Homo sapiens: one gene and its partner. The protein of the gene in region 1 interacts with the protein of each later gene in a pairwise test. Each region holds a gene or a part of one and is shown on either strand. Other genes may lie near its edges.

Region 1 (5,671 bases):
GGCAGACATCTGTAATCCCAGCTACTCGGGAGGCTGAGGCAGGAGAATTGCTTGAAACTGGAAGGCGGCGGATGCAGTGAGCCCAGATCACACCACTGCACTCCAGCCTGGGCATCAAGAGTGAGACTCCGTCTCAAAAAAAAAAAAAAGATTTTGCGTCATCTGGCTAGGAGACCCTCTCCCTTATTGTCTTTGAGGAAACAAGCAGCTGTGTTGCAAAGGCCTATGGGGTAAGGAACTGAGGGCGGTCTCCAGCCAACAACCAGAAAGAAACTGAGGCCCTCAGTCCGGCAACTCAAGAACTGAAGGCTGCCAATGACCATGTAATTTGGAGGCAGATCCTTCCCCATTGGAGCCTCAGATGACCCTGTGTCCCCAGCTGACATGTTGATTGCAGCTTGTAAAACTCTGATGTAGGAGACTCAGCTAAGCTATGCTCTGACTCCTGACTCACAGAAACTGTGAAATAATATCTATGTGTTATTTTAAACCATTAAATTTGTGGCAATATTCTTACATAGCAACTGATAAGTAGCAAATTATGTTTAGAGATCCTCTGAGACTGCCCTCAGGTTCAGTGATTCACTAGAAGGACTCACAGAACTCAGCAAAGTGTTGCACTCATAGTTACAGTTTATTACAGTGAAAGGATACAGATTAAAATCAGCAATGAAGAAAGGCACATAAGGTAAGGTCCAAGAGAACTTCCAATTATCCTCTCCTGGCAGAGTCTTCAGGATAATGCTTAATTCTCCCAGCAATGATGTGTGGCTACAATGATGTGTGCACAGAGTATTACCAACCAGAGTAGCTCACCCATGCCTAGGTGTCCAGGGCTTTTACTAGGGATTGATCACATTGGCATGCTTCACTGCCCACATGGCTAACTTAGTCTCCTCAGCTTGACCTTGCAAGGTCAAGCTGATACTGCATGGCCCAAGGCCCACAGGTAAACAAAAACACTCTTATCAGGCAAGATATTCTAATGGCTTAGAGGTTATCTCCCAGGAGCCAGGCAGGGGCCTATTCTTTATTTGGAATGTCCAGGGTTCAAACATCCCAAGTTCATCCTGTATCACACAAAAGGATTAACTTCAAAAGTGGTATTCTTGGCCAGGTGTGGTGGCTCACACCTGTAATCCCAGCACCTTGGGAGGCTGAGGTGGGAGGACTGCTTGAGACCAGGAATTCGACACCAGCCTGGGCAACCTAGTGAGATCCCATCTCTATCGTAATTTTTCTAAAAAGTGGTATTCTTAAGTCAAGTTACTACCCTGATTGATGACAGGGAGAGAGACCAGGAAACCACTGTGTTGTAATCCCTTAGGAAACCTTACACCTTTACTTGCTTTATTATCAGGTAATTTCCAGGATGTAAGCCATACAGCCAGAAGGCAGGGTACAAAGGAGAGGAGGCAGAGATGGTACACTCATACAGAAGCTTCTCCTGATTGTCCACTGAATAGAAGGCAAGCTTTCCCTCCTCAAGGTTCAGCCAGATGCCCACCACCCCAGGTCTGTCTGAGCCAAGGACAGTTTCCTTGACCATGTGCCATGCAGAGAGCTGGCTAGTCCCCTTCCATTCCACACAACAAGAGTCCATAGTCCTTCCCAGGACCTGGTCGCGGCTCATCTCCCAGGAAGCCACCCCAACTGCCCAGTGGCTGCAATTCCTAGTGTCCACTTCCCAGTAATGCTTTCCAGAAGACAGGGCCTGGGAACATAAGACCTGGCTGGTAGAAAACCTCTCACAGCTCCAGCGATAGGGTTGTGGGCGGTGAGACACAGTCACTGTACGGGAATCCTTGGACACCTCCAGGCTGCAGGAAAGGCTCTTCAAGTTAAAGGTTGGATGGATGGCCCCTTTGGAAAAAAAAAAAGAACAATAAGAACATGGCCGGTCATCTTTTGATGGTCCATGCTAAGAAGTCTTCAAATAGCAACTTTGTATCTTTTGGTGTGATGTTTCACTCACACTAGCATTAAAATTGCTACATCACCCAACAGGAAGAAATGATAAATGTTTCAGATGATAGATATGCTAACTACCTTGATCGGATCACTATGCACCATATGTATTGAAACATCACTATGTATCCCATAAATATGTACACTTATTATATTTATTTATTTTTAAAATTTATTTAGAAAAGAAGCAGGATTTTGCCATGCTTCCTAGGCTGGTGTCGAACTCCTGAGCTCCAGCAATCCTGCCATCTCAGCCTCCCAAAGTGCTGCAATTACAGGCATGAGCCACTGCACCCAGACTATACAATTATTATATGTCAATTTTAAAAATCAGGCCAGCTCCTTCAGCCAGGTGCACTGGCTTACCCCTGTAATCCCAGCACTTTGGGAGGCTGAGGCAGGTGGAACACTTGAGGCCAGGAGGTCAAGACCAGCCTGGCCATCATGGCCAACTCCTGTCTCTATTAAACATACCAAAATTAGCTGGGCGTAGGCAAGGTGCGGTGGCTCACGCCCGTCTTATGGTGATTTATGACCACAGCTGTTTATACCTTCCCAGTTAAACTGAAACTTCCTGATTGAGGACCATGTCTTACTCACTTTGTATATTTCATTTGGTTTCCTATTGAGTGAATAAATTGCTAACACTTATACAGCATGACTACTCTAGGTGTTTTACTCATACTCACTCACTTAACCCTCATGGCAATCCCGCAAGAGAAGTACTATATTATCTCCATTTTACAGATGAGGAAACCCAGGCTCTAGGAAGCTTAAGTGACTTGCCCAAGATCACACAGCTAGTTAGTGGAGCTGCTGGGAGTCAAACCCAAGCAGTCTGGCTCTGGGATCCATGCTCTTAAGGACTATCCCAGACTGAGATGGCAGAAATACCTCAGCAGGTTTAGGAAGAGGCAGTTGGCTATAGTTGGTGGCCACAGCACAGATGCAGAAATACCTCAGCAGGTTTGGGAACAGGCAGTTGGCTGTAGTTGGTGGCCACAGCAGAGATGCTCAAAGGTTGGCGGGACTCTGAGTGCTCTTGGGTCTAGAGTCTCAACCTGCTTTGCCTTTGCAATCAGCTCCCCCCGTGGAGGGACCTGGAACAAATCCATGTGCAGTAAGCCAAGGAGTGGCCCTAGCAGTAGGGAGATGGATGTAGGATATTCTCGAAGCCCGCTCTGCGGCAAGCCAAACCCATGTTTAAAGTGGACCACATACTTACACTGAGCAAACCGAGAAGCTCTCCTGAGTGCAGGGTGGCTCTGGTCAGGCAATGGGCATGAGGAGGAAGACGGGGCTTCCAGGAGTTCTCCTAAGTAACAAAAAAATTAACAGAGGAAAGTCCCATCAGAAAAAGGCAAACTGAAGGTCTCCAAACATCATGGTCAAGGCACATGGCTGGCTTGTCTTCTTATCATCTACACATTTTTCAGTGTCAGGACTGGATCAGGCAGAGGCAGTGTGCCTGCAGCCCAGGTATGTGCACCTCCATGTTCTCACTGTGGACTTTTCACTCTTTCTTCACTAAGCTCTCAGCTCCTTGCTAGCAAAGATCTTGTTCATCTATATGTTCTAAGCACCAAGCCCCATGCCAGTCCCATAGATAGAAGGTGTTTTATGCACACTCATGAAATAAAATCAACTAATACAGTTCCAGGGGATTGCAGCACCCTAACACCTAGAATATCCAGGACCCCCAAGTCAATGTTTTAAACTGTTGTTACATAAACTGGGTAACATGAGTTGGGGTGAGATTCATCACCATTGCTGACACCTCCTAATTCCCTCTCGATGTGCTAAAGTTTAATTATTAACTTAAAGCAGTCATGTGTGCTAGAGTGCAATGACCACGTCAGGCAGATGATAAGTAAGGGAAGTCCTAGAGTGCAGACTTTGAAGGCAAAATCTTGTCCTACTTGTATCTTGAAGTGACAGCAGCTGCAGTGAATCTAAGACTCCACCTGAGAAGAGATGAAAGACCTTGTCTAGGGTGTGCCTGTGGTAACTTAGGTCATGAGAGCAAGAGAGCTGCCTGTAAAGAGGCCAGTCTCAAAATTCAACTCGGAACTGAAGCAATCCCTGTGTCCAGAGACAGAAAAATGGATAAAGAAATGTGATATATACATACAATGGAATATTATTTAGCCTTAAAAAGTAACGAATACTGCCTGGGCGCAGTGGTTCACACCTGTAATCCCAGCACTTTGGGAGGCCAAGACAGGCAGATCACAAGGTCAGGAGTTCAAGACCAGCCTGGCCAATATGGTGAAACCCCATCTCTACTAAAAATACAAAAATTAGCTGCGTGTGGTGACACATGGCTGTAATCCCAGCTACTTGGGAAGCTGAGGCAGGAGAATCACTTGAACCTGGGAGGCGGAGTTTGCAGTCAGCCGAGATCGCACCACTGACTCCAGCCTGGGAAACAGAGTGAGACTCCATCTCAAAAAAAAAAAAAAAAAAAAGTAATGAATTCTGCCTGGGCGTGGTGGCTCACGCCTGTAATCCCAATACTTTGGGAGGCTGAGGCGGGCGGATCACCTGAGGTCAGGAGTTCGAGACCTGCCTGGCCAACATGGCGAAACCCCATCTCTACTAAAAAATACACACACACACACACACACACAAAACTAGTCAGGGGTGGTAGCACATGCCTGTAATCCCAGCTACTACTAGGGAGGCAGAGGTGGGAGAATTGCTTGAACCCGGGAGGCAGAGGTTGCGGTGAGCCAAGATCGCACCACTGCACTCCAGCCTGGGTGACAGAGCAAGACTCCGTCTCAAAAAAAAAAAAAGTAACAAATTCTGATATATGCTACAACATAGGTGAGCTTGGAGGACATTATGCTAAGTGAAATAAACCTCTCACACACTAATACTGTATGATTCCACTCACATGAGGTATCTAGAATAGTCAAATTCATAGAACAGAAAGTGGAATAGTGGTTGCCAGGTAGGAGGGGGTTGAAGGAATGTGGAATTGTTGCTTAATGGGTATAGAGTTTCAATTCTGCAACATGAAACCAGGCATGGTGGCCCATGCTTATAGTCCCAGCTAGTTAGGAGGCTGAGGCAGCAGGCTCACTTGAGGCCAGGAGGAGTTCCAGACCAGCCTGGGCAACATAATGAGACCCTGTCTCTACAAAACAATTCTTTTTTTTTTTTTGAGACTGAGTCTCGCTCTGTCGCCCAGGCTGGAGTGCGATGGCGCAATCTCAGCTCACTGCAAGCTCCACCTCCCGGGTTCACGCCATTCTCCTGCCTCAGCCTCCTGAGTAGCTGGGACTACAGGCGCCCACCACCACACCCAGCTAATTTTTTTGTATTTTTAGTAGAGACGGGGTTTCACCGTGTTAGCCAGGATGATCTCGATCTCCTGACCTAGTGATCCACCCGCCTCGGCCTCCCAAAGTGCTATGATTACAGGCGTAAGCCACTGTCCCGGCCAAAACAATTCTTTAAATAGCTGAGCATGGTGGTGTGGGCCTATAGTCCTGGCTACTGGGGAGGCTGAAGCAGGAGGATTGAGGTTACAGTGAGCCATAGTTGTGCCACAGTACTCTAGCCTGGGCAACAAAGTAAGACCTGATCCTAAAAAATTAAAATTAAAGTTACAGTCCAGGCGTGGTGGCTCACACCTGTAATCCCAGCACTTTGGGAGGCCGAGACGGGTGGATCACCTGAGGCCAGGAGTTTGAGA
Region 2 (5,721 bases), on another chromosome or scaffold:
ATCCTTCAATCATGACCCCACCCACAAAAACAAGAAAAGCTTTAAACTCCTAAATTAAAAAGACTAAAGAAAGATGTTTTTTGTTTTGTTTTATAGTGAACATTTCAAATGTGTGATATTCAGAATTTAAATAGATTCTTGGCTTCCTTATTCTGTCTTTGTCTTCCATTCCATCAATCAATACTGAGAAAGTTCAAAATATCTTTTAAGTCTATAAGATAGGCTTAGAATCCCAGCTAATATTCAGGGCAGACTGGCCAGCTATGCTAGAACTAGAACCAAAAACCCATCTCATACTCTCCAGGAGTTGTTCCAGGATTCTGTGGAGTTCCATTACCTTACTTTTGGGAGTAGGTGAGGGACATACACAGCACAGCAGACCCACCCTTGCTGTACAAAATGCTTATTAGGGAACAAACTTGCTGCTGGCATGGACAATCTGGGACAGGGTCATCAAGGGGATTTTTGTCACACTTGGTAAACAGAGGGATTGAAGAGTCCACAGGTTTAAGGAAAACCCTGCATTCACCCAGACTACTGTATGTTTGCTGCTGACATTAGTGATCTAGATGATAAAGAAAACAGTTAAGGTAAAATATGCCAAAGCTAAGCACATATTCAAAATAGCTTCTTGTGGATTAAATTGTCCTTGAGACAGTTGGGATATTTGGTTTGACTTTTAAAGAACATTAGTGCAATGTTCTATTTTAAAAATCACACTACAATTAGAATCTAGCAATTACCAAGACATTTATTAGTTGTCAAAAAGCTTTACAATCAGTTTCATGATCAGAAAATAGAGCAAAATTTCAATATTGTTTTCTTTATAAAATTGATGAATTTCTGAAAAGATAAAGGATCATTTGATTTTTAAAAATGTCAGCTTCATCACATGATGTTCCAGAGATCTGACCCCAAAAGCTTCTCAAGTTTTACTATCCATAGTGTCCTTATTTGTAACTGAGACCCATCCGTTATTTTCCATCTGAAGCTGGAAAGAGTTAAGACAATTAGTATCTGGTTTCACTCTGAAAAAAAAATTACAAAATTAAGTAGTAACTATTTTCTTTTAAACCATTTTTTAAAGTATGAGTCTAAAATAGAAAAACTACCTCACCTTCTTCAGCAGTTTATAACAAAGTGAAAGAAGTTGGACTAAGAGAGCCATCATGGATCTTGTCTTCGTAATACACTTGTCAACCTACAATGACAAAAAGCATGCAAATGATATTCTAAAAGTAGTACTTAAAAGACCTTACCATTTATTTAGTTTTAACATGATAAAATTTCTCCATATGGAAATCTAAGGGATCTTGAAAGAGATATGGATTTAGGCACATGAGCTGACTCAAAGCCCCAGGACACAGGTGCAGGGGTAGCTGCCTAGATTTCATGTCTATCTCATGGAACCCCAGCAGAAAGAGTGGGTGGAAAATTAATCATTCTACTGCAGGCTGTTTAGGGGCTTCTCAAAACACTCCAAATAGTGGAATTAAATCCCATCCTTTGCAATTCCTTGCACTCTATTTTGTGGGCACAAACCCATATTCTCTCAGACAAATTATGGGAGACCAGACTCGGAGGCACCTGTGTCCTAGTTGCAGAGGTAATGACTTCAGAATTGAAGGGCAGCTGTTCAGTGCTATGGAATTAATGATGTCCAAAAAACTACTTTATTTGGTGAATCTGCTACTCTCTGGGGTCAGTTATGAGAGTAGATAATAAATGATTCTTGTAGACAAGGCATGAAAAAAGGAAATAAATTGCCCTTCTGTGGGTACTAACAGTTTATTTGAAGAAAAAGGGGCTTTAACCAGATAAAGATAGATGTGTGAAAGTTTTTCATATGTCTCTTTTACCTTTAGAAATACTTTATTCTGCAAAGAAGTCTTAGTTACTGTCTGGAGCTGGTGGCATAGAGGAATTAGCTTGTTTATTTCCAGGAGAAGCATAAGCTTGTCATCGTCTTTCAGCTGAAATGTAATTTAACAAGTTATAACAGCCCGCAACAAAACTCCATCTTTAATACCTTAAACACATTTATACATTGATATTATACCCCCAAAGTAGGTTATACATAATACCACCACCAGCTCCAGGTAGGTAGACATGTGTTACCTGTTTTGAAAAAGCTTGAACACTGGAAGTAAGCTTTAAACCCTCTGCAGCAAAAACCTGGTAGAAAGAGAAAACACCACTATTTTAGACTGATGTCTATGGATAGTTGGTAAGAAATATACTTACTAATAATTTTTACGTAGAATTTTAAAAATAAAGCCTAGATATAAAAAGTCTGTCAGGAACTCCTAAACTTTTTCCAGTACCAGGAATGCACAAGGGTTTAACTGTTTTCAGAAGGAGTTTCCACAGACCAGATGCAGAATCCATCCCTGGAGAGGCTTCTCTACACCAGACCTCCAATTATTCTGGAGGGTCACACAGACCTGTGATATTCAGCCACACAAATTATGTCTAGATTACGCAAGGGACCTAGAGCTCATCTCAAATATGCTCAATTATAAAAGGATGATGAATTTTCAAGCATGAGGTCAAAAGGGTTAGGACCTTCCCAATTCCATCTAGGCAAGACAAAATTTGTCACCCATACATATTCCATAACCAGACATTTGAGAGAACCAATCCAGGTGGTTGGTTTTTGTTGCCACTTTTTTTCAGATTAATTTTCACTATTCACCATGTACCATGAATTCTATAATTTAATGAGATGAACAGGATGATGGAGAAGTAGAGTGAAAAAGAAGGTTGTACAGGTAAGACAGAAGTATTTAGCATATTATGTTAAAATGGTTTGCAGACTATTTTAGAGTGAGATGCCAGGGGAGTAAAGGGAGGAAGGCTTAGTTTTAGGTGGCGTCAGTAATAATGGAGAGAACAGGGAAAATCTGAGAGTGGTTTGTGAATGAAAATAATAGGTCTTCATAATAAATTAAAGAATACTAAGAAGGAGGAGGCAATAATTCCAGGGTTAATTTTTACCCTCTATTCAAAAGGCTTAACACCTTGCTATCACTGGATAAAATGATCTCAAGGTCAAATCGTACTTTGCAACCTTCCCTTTAAAAGGGAAACCAGTAAGCTTTACATCTAGACTCCAACCAAATGAAATGATTCACTTCCCCAAGTGTTCCTTATCACTTCATGTTACCACTTTCTATTCTGCAAATTTTCTCTTTCCTTCTAGCCTGCAAACCCCTTGGGGACAAAATCCATGTCTGTCTCATACAGTATGATGGTTTTAAAACTACCTGAAAGCTGGTAACTCCCAGGTCTCTCTCTCCACTCCTGAACTATCCTGACATCAGTCTTGTACAGTCATCCCTCAGTATCCATGGGAGATTGGTTCCCAGACCTCCCCAAGGATACCAAAATCTGTAGATGCTTAAGTCCCTTAAATAAAACAGTGTAGTATTTGCATATAACCTACACACATCATCCCATAAACTTTAAATCATCTCATCTCTAAATTATAATATCTAAGTTAATGTAAATGCTAAGTAAATCGCAGTTATACTGTATTGTTTTCCCTCCCTTGGAACTCTAACCTTTTAAAATGTATTTTGTTTTTTTTTACTGTTGTTATATTTTATTGGTTTTCTTCCTTTTTTTTTTTTTTTTGAGACAGGGTCTCACTCTGTTGTCCAGAGTGAAGTGAAGTGGTGTGATCACAGCTCACTACAGCCTTGACCTCCCAGGCTCAAGCGATCCTCCTGCCTCAGCTGCCTGAGTAGCTAGGATTACAGGTGTGTGCCACCATGCCCCGCTAGTTTTTTTTTTTTTTGTTTTGTTTTTTTGTAGAGACAAGGTCTCACTATGTTGCCCCAGCTGGTCTCAAACTCCTGGACTCAAGTGATCCTCCCAGCTTGGTCTCCCAAAGTGCTAGGGTTACAGGAGTGAGCCATTGTGCCCAGACTGTTTTTACTGTTTTGAATATTTTCAATCCATAGTTGGTTGAATCTGCAGATGCAAAACCTGCAGATAGGGAGGGCCAAGTGTATATCCTATCTGACCTTTGTACTTAACATGTGCAAAACAAAATGCTCGATTTCCACCCTCTAAATCTAGTGTTCTCCCTCAGTGTTCCCTGTCTCAGAAAATGGCACTACCACTCACTCTGTTGGCCAAGCCAAAAACCTTACTTAAAACATAATAGGATCAGCTGGGCATAGTGGCTCAGGCCTGTAATCCCAGCACTTTGGGAGGCTGAGGCGGGCGAATCACAAGGTCAAGAGATCGAGACCATCCTGGCCAACATGGTGAAACCCTGTCTCTACTAAAAATACAAAAATTAGCTGGGCGTGGTAGCGCACACCTGTAGTCCCAGCTACTCGGGAGGCTGAGGCAGAAGAATCACTTGAACCCGGGAGGCGGAGGCTGTAGTGAGCCGAGATCGTGCCACTGCACTCCAGCCTGACAACAGAGCGAGACTAAGTCTCAAAAAAAAAAAAAAAAAAGTCCTTCCCATGGCCTACAGAGACATCATATTTTACCCCTTTCCTTCTGGCTCACTTCACTCCCATCAATAATTGCCTCCTTACTCTTCTGATACACCCAGCCCTACCCCTGCACCTCGGGGCTTTGCACTTGTTTTGGCTATCTAAAATCCTCTACCCACATTTATCCATCCAACTCTCACTTCATTACTGTCTCTATTCAAACACTGGCTCCTTAGAGAGGTCTTTTCTGACCACCCCTCTATCACCTCTGTATTCTAGTCGTACGTGATTTTATCTCCAAGTACTTACATATGTGCACTGAATGCTTAAATTCTTATTGTCTATATTCTGCCATTAGAACATAAGCTCTATGGGGGCAGGAGCTTTGCTTTGTTCACTTTTCTCCACAGAGCTCTGTTCTCCCAGATCTGACATATAGCACAAGTTCAATAAATATTTGTTGAATGAAGTATGCAATTTTATGTTCATCACAGTTTGGAGACAATTCATTGAACATTGATTTAATGACTAAGCTCACATAGGAAGAAGGTAAGTAGTGGATCTTTTGTAGTAAAACACCCCTACAGGGCGGTATGACAGAATGGACTTGGGCCAAACTGAAAAAAAAAATAAATTCAGAATTTCAACTATCTTAAGGGAAATAGCTCATTTATAGTCTGCTTTACAGAAAAATCCAGAAGACACATTTTCTATAATACTTCTGATTATGTTGACAATCATCCTCTTAAGCTGAAATCCCTTTCCCACAGAATGCCAAATAAAACTATATGAGTGATAAAGTGATAGAAATTTCTTTCTTTTTTTTTTTTTTTTGAGATGGAGTCTTGCTCTGTCACCCAGACTGGAGTGCAGTGGCGTGATCTCAGCTCACTGCAAGCTCCGCCTCCCGGGTTCACGCCACTCTCCTGCCTCAGCCTCCCAAGTAGCTGGGACTACAGGTGCCCGCCACCACACCCAGCGAATTTTGTGTATTTTTAGTGGAGACAGGGTTCCACCGTGTTAGCCAAGATGGTCTCGATCTCCTGACCTCGTGATCCACCCACCTTGGCCTCCCAAAGTGCTGGGATTACAGGCGTGAGCCACCGCGCCTGGCCTAAAGTGATAGAAATTTCAAATCTCAGATGTACATGGGAATGCCAAAGGAGACTATATGAGTGATAAAGTGACAGAAATTTCAAATTTACACACAAGAATGCTCTTGGTTCTAGAGAGGCAAACAGGCTAACATGGGGATCAGGGAAAACAT

What was found.
Region 2: the proteins of RNF135 (region 1) and CTNNAL1 interact in binary tests that used the Homo sapiens proteins (3 or more experiments, as listed by UniProt).

Annotation. Positions count from the first base shown.
Region 1 is NC_000017.11:30,994,854-31,000,524, reverse strand, and holds the end of RNF135 (E3 ubiquitin-protein ligase RNF135), read right to left. Parts: intron 3,284-5,671; coding exon 3,194-3,283; intron 1,864-3,193; coding exon 1,334-1,863; 3' UTR 614-1,333; downstream 1-613.
Region 2 is NC_000009.12:108,941,844-108,947,564, forward strand, and holds the end of CTNNAL1 (alpha-catulin), read right to left. Parts: intron 2,176-5,721; coding exon 2,119-2,175; intron 1,974-2,118; coding exon 1,860-1,973; intron 1,202-1,859; coding exon 1,118-1,201; intron 1,029-1,117; coding exon of another isoform or gene 1,011-1,028; exon of another isoform or gene 992-1,010; coding exon 926-991; 3' UTR 734-925; downstream 1-733. UniProt on the Homo sapiens protein: May modulate the Rho pathway signaling by providing a scaffold for the Lbc Rho guanine nucleotide exchange factor (ARHGEF1).